Regions from separate parts of the Homo sapiens genome. Here region 2 is linked to region 1. Evidence: fine-mapped expression QTL. Tissue or cell type: spinal cord. Region 1 holds a variant in brackets; the other region holds the start of a gene. All regions are shown on one strand. Distances are between the middles of the regions.

Region 1 (4,244 bases):
GCAGCTTTTAAAAGAAAATGGCTGAAACAACATAAATTTGACTTTAATTAGTTAAGAGGGATATTACAGAGCACTGGTAGCCAACATTCTCTAGAGACATTATTATCACTAAGATGATGACCAGGCTGCAGGGACAAATATGAAGCCCCAGGAGAAACCTGTACAAGATAGGACCAACTCTGAGACTTTGCCTGTAGTTGTCCATAGCTGCAGGAATCTGCTAATCCCTTTGTGAGATAGCATCACACCTGTATTATAAATATTTCAATCATTTATATACGTGACTAGGTTAACTATTTAATAAAACTCTGTCTAATTTAACCATAATCCCTGTAAGTTTTTCTAAATTAATTCTTTAGTATTTAAATTCCCTATTATATAATGAAGTTATTGCTGGGTTACATGGCTTTGGTATCCAAGCAGGATCAACTTCAAGTCATCCTAACAATTCTCCTCTCCCCAACAAAATACTACAACTTACTGATCTTAACTTGTGTATCAGTTAGCTTTTGCTGCCTAACAAATTGCCCCCAACCTGTGGCTTTGAACAACAAACATTTCTTATTTTTCATGAATGCTGGTAGGGTGCCTGGACAGTTTTGGGCAGTTTGTCTGGAATGGCTTGGTTGATCACTGTGACCGGCTGGTGGCTCAAACGAGGCCATGTGTTCTAGGATGCCTTCCCTCATTTGGTGGTTGGGGAAGTCTGCTGGGGCAATAAAGGTGACTTGTTCCTATGTCTCACATTATCCACAGGTTAGCCTGAGCTCCTTCTCATGGTGGTGTTCCCAGGATCCACCAGAGCAGCCAAAAAGGGCAAACCACAAAACATGAGAAATGTTCAGGCTGTTGGGTATGCCCGATTTGCTATTGTCTTATCAGCCATCAGAAATTGCATGGGCAGACCCAGAGTCAGTGTGGGAGGGGATTAACCAAGGAAAGTTATCACTGTGTTTTTGTAAATAGTACACTACAACTGGGTGTTGCCAGGCACTGCTGCTATTCCACTGGCATAGCTGCCACCACACTGCAACTCAATTATGACAGCCTCAATAACCAATCCGTATGAATTTTCAACAACAGCTTATGTATACCATCTTCAACTTTCCATGTCAGAGAATGCTGTCACCCCAATATAACACAGGGTGACTGCTACAAATGTATGAAAATTCCAGTCACTTTAGTACAGCCCCTTTACCTATTAACAGGGCTCTTCTTTTTGGTTACATAAAATTTGATTATGTGAAAACTTACATCCAAAGTCTTCCTTTCTGCTTCAGGCCCTTTGATGACTCAGCAGTATGTGGCTAATACACATAAGGGAAGAACAACTTAATATGCAAAATTCCAAACTTATAAAACAGATAAATCAGAAAGTAGAGAGTGATTCATCCCATCACAATAGAATTATTCGCTCTTACATCAGGAGTCTTTAAAATAGCCAACTCCCCTAGGGCCTCTAAAATAAAACTCATCTCCAAACTTACTTTACTAATAGATTCTCAGGACTACACCTTGACATAGGGTAAGTTGTGACTGATGATTCTCTCACTGGATTCAACTTGACTGAAGGGGCAGTAAAGAACTAGGTCCTAGGCCTGGCACGGTGGCTCACGCCTGTAATCCCAGCACTTTGGGAGGCTCAGACGGGCGGATCACGAGGTCAAGAGATCGAGACCATCCTGGCTGACAGGGTGAAACCCCGTCTCTACTAAAAATACAAAAATTAGCCAGGCGTGGTGGCGGGCGCCTGTAGTCCCAGCTACTCGGGAGGATGAGGCAGGAGAATGGTGTGAACCTGGGAGGCGGAGCTCGCAGTGAGCCAAGATCGCACTGCTGCACTCCAGCCTGGGCAACAGAGTAAGACTCCATCTCCCAAAAAAAGAAAAAAAGAACTAGGTCCTCCTTGGAAGAGAAGACAAACCAAAGCAGCAATATTATGTCCAGAGAACATTAAAAAAAAAACACACACACACCATTACATGATTTCAAACATATGAACATCTCATCTCACACCCTCTGTGGAACTGAACCTACGTCCCTTCCCAAAGGGGGAGAACCGAGTTCAACCATCAGCCTTCAGTTGGGACATGGTATGTAGGAGGGCGATGCCGGCCTGGTAGACCAGGGGCAGCGCTGGGGTGAGCACCCCGCATCGCCCAGGGCACTAGCCCAAGGGACCAGCCACCACAGAGAACCTATATCTTTCTACCCTGCTCTCTTTCCAACTTTGCCACATGTAATGTCCCTTGCTTGACTGACACAGCCCTTAAAGAGCAGGCACCTCCATTCCCATGTTGTGTGTTCAAGTATGGCAATGCAGGAGGCAGGGAATCCATTAAGGAAAAGAATAGCAGGGC[C/T]TTGTCCTCTATCCCGCAGCTGCTTCTCATTGGCGCTGCCCCCCACCCCCCCTGCCCCCCGTTCCATTCCACTGGGGCTGTTGTGAGCCAGCAAGTTACGTAACATCCCATAGAAAGCTCCTATTTAAAACTCTGATAGGTGACAGCCTGTTTGACAAACAGGCTTCAGTCTGTCAAGCCAGCATCTCCAAAGCATCTGCATTTTCCGGGCTGCTGTTTTCTTGCTTATAGTCCATCAGGGCTGCACTGGGCTATTCAGGCCCTTCCCAGGGATGGAAGCCGCTGTGTCTCAGCAAGGGGCTGTCAAATTGTCCCACTTTCCCTGCCTAGTTCATATAGGGGTATCCATATTTATATTGATCTAGGCACATGAATGGCATGCCATGCTAGGCAGCAACTTGGCGGAGATAATCCAAAACACTCTGCACTCACTTGAAATTTAAATTCACCCACAAAATGCATAGGTTTAGCCTGGTCACTGATGTCATTGGTTTCTCCACTATAAGCAGAAATTGCCTCAGTGACTGAATATGTGTGAGTGGTATGTGTGTGTGTGCGCGTGTGTGTATGTATAGTCTGTCTTCACGTTAATTATTTAAAAGTTCTGTCCATTGTCCAGTTTTCCAATTTCCCCCTACAGTTTCCCTATAAATTAAGTGATTATAGCTCTTGTTGTTAACACATCACCTTAGAGCTGTCATCTAGCACACATTCGGATGCAACCCCCCAATCCTGACGGTGGTCAGAACAAAACAGGATGGGGAAGAGGGGAGGCATATTACCATCCAGGACTATTGCAGGGGTTGCTACCTGGCTCCTTCCTGCCCTCCACATTTGTCAGTTACCTTTGGGATGTACTTGCCTCCTCTGGTCCTTGTCATTTTCCCCTAGTGTCTTTTGTTGATATCCACCATTCCAGAATGTTCTGTGAGATCCAGGAGCAAACACTGTGCATCCTCTCTGTTTTAGGCACAGGCTACTCCAGTTCTACCTACTCTCTCATCCCTTAGTGCCTTGCTGCAGGCTCAGGACCTCCCAGTTGCTCTTTTGGCACTGGACCATGCTGCCTGTATGCTGTGAAGCTGCCCCTGGGCCCATCTGTCTAGCACCTCTCTCAATGCAGACTAACCTGCAGCTAAGGCAGCCCCTGCCCAAGTACACCTGCAGCTGGGAAGGAAGGTAGAAGCCTCTCTGTCGTCCTCATATTAAGCTTATCTTCTTGGATATTCCACCCACCCTTGATCCTAGGATGGGATGGAGGGGAGGGGTCCTATTTCCTGATGTCGTAGCTTTGACATTGTCTTCATATTCACTTCCACACCTCTCTGGAAACCATTGCAACTGGAAAGGGTCACCTCTTCTGGTTGTGTGGAACCTAAATTTTTCTCTCTCATGCATTTTCCACCCAGCTGCTGGTGTGGCACATATTTTATGCCCTGAGCCTTTTCTTCTCTCTGAAGCCCAGCACTTGCAAATCAAAAACTTTCAAGACCATTGTTTCTGCTGCACATTAAATTATATATTTAATAACACAGAAATTTATACTTTTCAGTATTTATCTAAACTCCCCCAAGGACAGTGCTTACAGAAAGCTAACGCCTAAATCTTGGCAAGAAGGGTCATAGGCACATGAAAACTGGATCTTCTGGGGTCGGGGGAAGAAGAAAGAGTTTATACCTAAAATTTGTATTTACCACATTCTTATGAAAAACCTGCACTCATTTTCCTTCAGCATAAATAACCCTTGGTTTACATATGCTTAGTTATTTACTACCATTACCCACTGTATTTGTTTGTTCTCACGCTGCTAATGAAGACATACCCAAGACTGGGTAATGTATAAAGGCCCCCTGCACATAAAGGAAAGAGGTTTAATGGACTCAG
Region 2 (4,244 bases), 91 kb before region 1:
ACTCAAACACCCACCAAAGCCCCTAGGGGACAGCAGGGAATCCTGAGGCCCATGCCTCCTGGGGTTGGGTGCAGCAGACGACATCATGGACATCCCTGCAAGATTCACCACCTTGGACTTCCTTATCACCCGACACAGATCCCTCCTGTCCCCACCCCTTGCCTTCTTCATCGAGCCCCAGTCAAGGGTGTACACATTTGATCCTTCCAGCCTGGTCTCTCTGCCCACCTTACGTGGATCCACACTGCAGCCACTGCAACCTATGTCAAGAGGACAGCAGCAATCCCTAAATCCTAACCTCGGAGAAGAGCCAGCAGGACTACAGCTCAGGACTCAGTCCAGATCAGGAGAACTCCATATTGCAGGGGGAGAAGAGGGCGAGGGGGTGGGACTCCCCATCGTTTTTCACCGGGTCAGAGGGAACTTTCCTCTGGGAATACAACTGCATAGGACTGAGCCTCACCTCCCAAGAGAGGGCTCCTCCTCCCGGAGCCCTGCTGGGCCACCCTGGGAAAGTTTCTCAGCTTGTCTCGATCCTTACGAGTTTTAGCTGTGTTTAATATAAAAGAGGCAAACTAGTTACCCCAAAGGACAGGGCAGGTGGGAGCAAGAAGATTAGTGGATAATTCTGTTGCTGGAACGAACAGACGTGAGAGCCGGGATGGGGTGTGGGGAGGCACGGTGCAGCAAATGGACTCAAGGTGGAGGCCGATTCCAAATGCACAGAACACAGCACTGGGGACATCAAAGCTTGCACTCAACTGCAGCCCCCAGGGCTCCCGGCTCAGCCGATAAATAAACAGAAAATTAGCATTCGACTCTTATTGCCTCTCTCCCTTCAACTTCGAAAAGCTTTTTAGAATTTCAGAGCCCCGGCTCCCCTCGCTTCCACACCTCCGACCCCAGCCACAAACACACCCCCGAACACATTTAAAACTAATACAGTTGTCCCCCACTGCTGCAAATTGACTCATCCCTTGCAGCTGGATCGCTGACCAGAACCTCACAGGAAGCACCTGATTCTTTCTAGCCTGCATTTTCCCCTTTGCTCCTTTTAAAAGCTTTGCAAGTTCGCTGGCCGATATTTAAAGTTTCCTCTTGTAATTTCTTCCCAGTCGCATAAGCAACACATTAGCAACCCTGTTGCCCTCCGAATCTGTCATTTCCCCCTGCTTACATGTGTGCTCCGTTGTGTATGTGTGCAAGAATGTGCATGAAGCCAGGGAGCCTTGCACACAAGCACAGTCCTAACAGGAGCACCAAACACATTTTACTTATGCACATACATATTCCCCCATTCCGGTAGCAGCCAGAATCAAATCAATATTCTCACAGCCTAGTCGGGAGAATGAAGTCCCAGCCATGCTGTCTAAACGCTCTCTCCTCCACCTGCAAACAGCGCAGCACAGCCGACTCGGGGAGTCTGCAAATCTTATAAAGCACACTGTACAATTCCTGGGTCTACCGAAGGCAAATCAATAGCAAGCTCTTACCTTGGAAGAGACACAGAGCAGCCAGCCCCGTGAAGATTGCCCAAGAGATAGAATTGTGCATTTTTGGCTGGATGGTTTTCATGATTTTTTTTCTTCTTCTTTTTCTTCTTTTTTGTCAGGTTCGGTTTTTTTCTTTCTTTCTTTCCTGATAGATTGTGTTGCTCTCAAGCTTGTGCAAGGAGATTTAAATCCACTGTTTTGCTGAAGGACACAACAAGAAAGCCGAGGGTGTGAGAGAGTATGACTTCTCCGTAATTATCTCCACTCATACTCTGGCACTGAGACACATTGTACAATCTGGCCCTGGACAGCCCTCCTACAAGCTGCAATCATTGGTTCTAATCCAAGGATTGACAGAGCTACAACACACGCGCGCGGGCACACACACACACACACACGCACACACACTCTCAGGAATCATTTACTGGGCAAATCAGGCTAGCTGATTAAAGAGACAGGAGCCTGGAGAGATAGAATGATAAATGCCACTTTGCCCCTTCTATATTACTTTCATTTTTTAAACTGACAGTCTCTGAGTCTTCTGAGTATCAGAAAATCCCTTTCCCCCTGGCATTCCCTGGCCTCCTGAACTCAGATTCCCTTTGCACTGGAAAAATCCCATAGCCAGCCATGGCTTATGGGAAATTTTAAAGGGACATTTTCATGCTCAGTGAAACTTGTAAAGATGAGGCAATTTTCATTTGTTGGTACCTATTTTCCCCTCCAATGGAAATATCATTCAGTGACAGCTTTTTTTTCTCTCTTTCATCAACCTTTCTACTTAGTTGCTTTGAAAATAGTAAATAACTTTCTATTTTCTCCTCCTGTCACTTCTGTTTCAGAACATCTATGTTACTCCTCTTTTTCATTCACTTTTTAGAAGTCAATTTCCTAAATTCATCCATGTGTATATGATACAATGGAAAGGTACAAAGTACCTGGTATTTGAGAAGAAGCTCTATAGTCTGAAGATGGAGAACCTTCTTCAAAAGAAAACAAAGCAGGAGTTTATTCCCCATGACTTGGTCAATCCACATCCACTAAAGCAATCATAGAAGCATCTGTGATTTAAACTGCAGCGAGAAAGATTCAGGGTAGACATGCGGAGGGGCTTTCTGAGTGTAAACTTTGTGTAGTTCCTCAGACAGTTGAAGACATTAACCTCCTTGGTGATAGGAAAGAATAAAAACCGAACAGAAATAATCTAATGGACATAAATGATTTCTTAAGAGGTCTAATTCTAGGGCCTGGAAGTTTATTCTAATCTTTGGCTTCCCCTTATGAGAAGCAAGTTAGAGGATGTGAACAAAAAATCTAGAAAATGTAGCTCCTGGCTGGGCACTGTGGCTCACGCCTGTAATCCCACAACTTTGGGAGGCCAAGGAAGGCCAGTAGCCTGAGCTCAGGAATTCGAGACCAGCCTGGGCAACATGGTGAAACCCTATCTCTACTAAAAAATTCCTTAAAAATATCTGGGTTTGGTGGTGCGCACCCGTGGTTCCAGCCACTTGGGTGGCTGAGGCAGGAGAATTGCTTGAGCCTGGGAGGCGGAGATCACAGTAAGCCAAGATGGCGCCACTACAATCCAGTCTGGGTGACAGAGCCAGCCCCTGTCTCAAGAAAAAAAAAAAAAAAAAAGAAAAGAAAAAGAAAATGTAGTTTCTCACAGAACCTTCCTTAGCTAATTCTGACACATTCATACCCCTACTATGCCTTGACACACATTTTAAAAATATTCTTCTAGAACTCCACCGCTAATTATTATACTTCCTTGTAACCCCATAAAAATGTTCATGTATTTTCAAACTGCATAGAAGAAAAGTACTCATTGTCTGTTTGTATTTTAGTGTACAGAGGTGAAATGAAAACATCACTGCCATTTTGCACATGTCTAAGACGTACGATTTACCTTGGCTTTTTTCTTTTTTCTTTCTTTTTTGTTTTTGTTTTTGACAGACTCTTGCCCCGTCACCCAGGTTGGAGTGCAGTGGTGCAATCACAGCTCACCGCAACTTTGAACTCCTGGGCTCAAGGAACCCTCCTGCCTTACCCACTATGCCCAGCTATTTTTTTTTTTTTTTTAATTTTCTACAACATAGTAGAGATGAAGTCTCACTATGTTGCTCAGGCTGGTTTCAAACTCCTTGCCTCAAGCAGTCCTTCCAGCCTTGGCCTCCCACAAGTTTACCTTGTGTTGTGTATGAATAGGGACAACACTGCCTGGAATGTGGGATCTTGTGACCTTGAGAGGAAGGGGCCCTGGGACCTCAAGATCTGGGGACCTCAAGATCCTTCTCATAGTTCTGCACAACTAAGGGACCTCAGGCAGGTCCTTTCACCTCTGTGAACCTTGGCTTCTTGTCTATAAAATTGTAGAACTGGAATAATTTATTATACTCCTTCTCATTTTAAAGATGTTTTATGTTAACTGGTATTTTTTTTCTTCTTGCCATTAAGTTCTAATTCACATATCTATCAAAATGTCCTTGATATCGTGAGCTCCCAATGGACAAGAATTTTATCTGTAGATGAGTCTTTTTGTGCGGTGCTCAGCATAGTGACATGTGTAATTAAATGCTTTGGAACAACTGTGACGGCAGGTGATAACAGTGCAGTGCAGAAGGAAGGTGGCTTCCTTTCACCACCATTTCATTTCTCTCCAGAACGATGATAAAGATCATGGGCCACTGGTAAGTCTTTAGTCCCAATCAGGAGAGGTGGACAATAACATTTGTAAATGTCCTTACCCTG

Which allele goes with the higher level. Positions count from the first base shown, and alleles are read on the strand shown. Sizes are in standard deviations (SD) of each study's normalised expression.
For the expression in spinal cord of the gene that starts at base 1,767 in region 2, allele C in region 1 goes with a lower level than allele T (moderate effect, 0.65 SD a copy in GTEx).

The links. PIP is the estimated chance that this variant, and not a neighbour inherited with it, causes the effect.
Region 2: NTM starts here. The variant in region 1 is fine-mapped to the expression of NTM in spinal cord (GTEx, PIP above 0.99).

Annotation. Positions count from the first base shown.
Region 1 is chr11:131,276,935-131,281,178 of GRCh38, reverse strand. No RefSeq gene overlaps it. Among named protein-coding and RNA genes, the nearest start is that of NTM, 92 kb to the left of the region's middle. The variant C/T (reference allele first, on the strand shown) is at 2,361.
Region 2 is chr11:131,368,138-131,372,381 of GRCh38, reverse strand. It overlaps NTM (neurotrimin), which reads right to left and starts at 1,767. Exons shown (of 9, transcript NM_001352005.2): 1 at 1,494-1,767. The coding sequence starts at 1,575.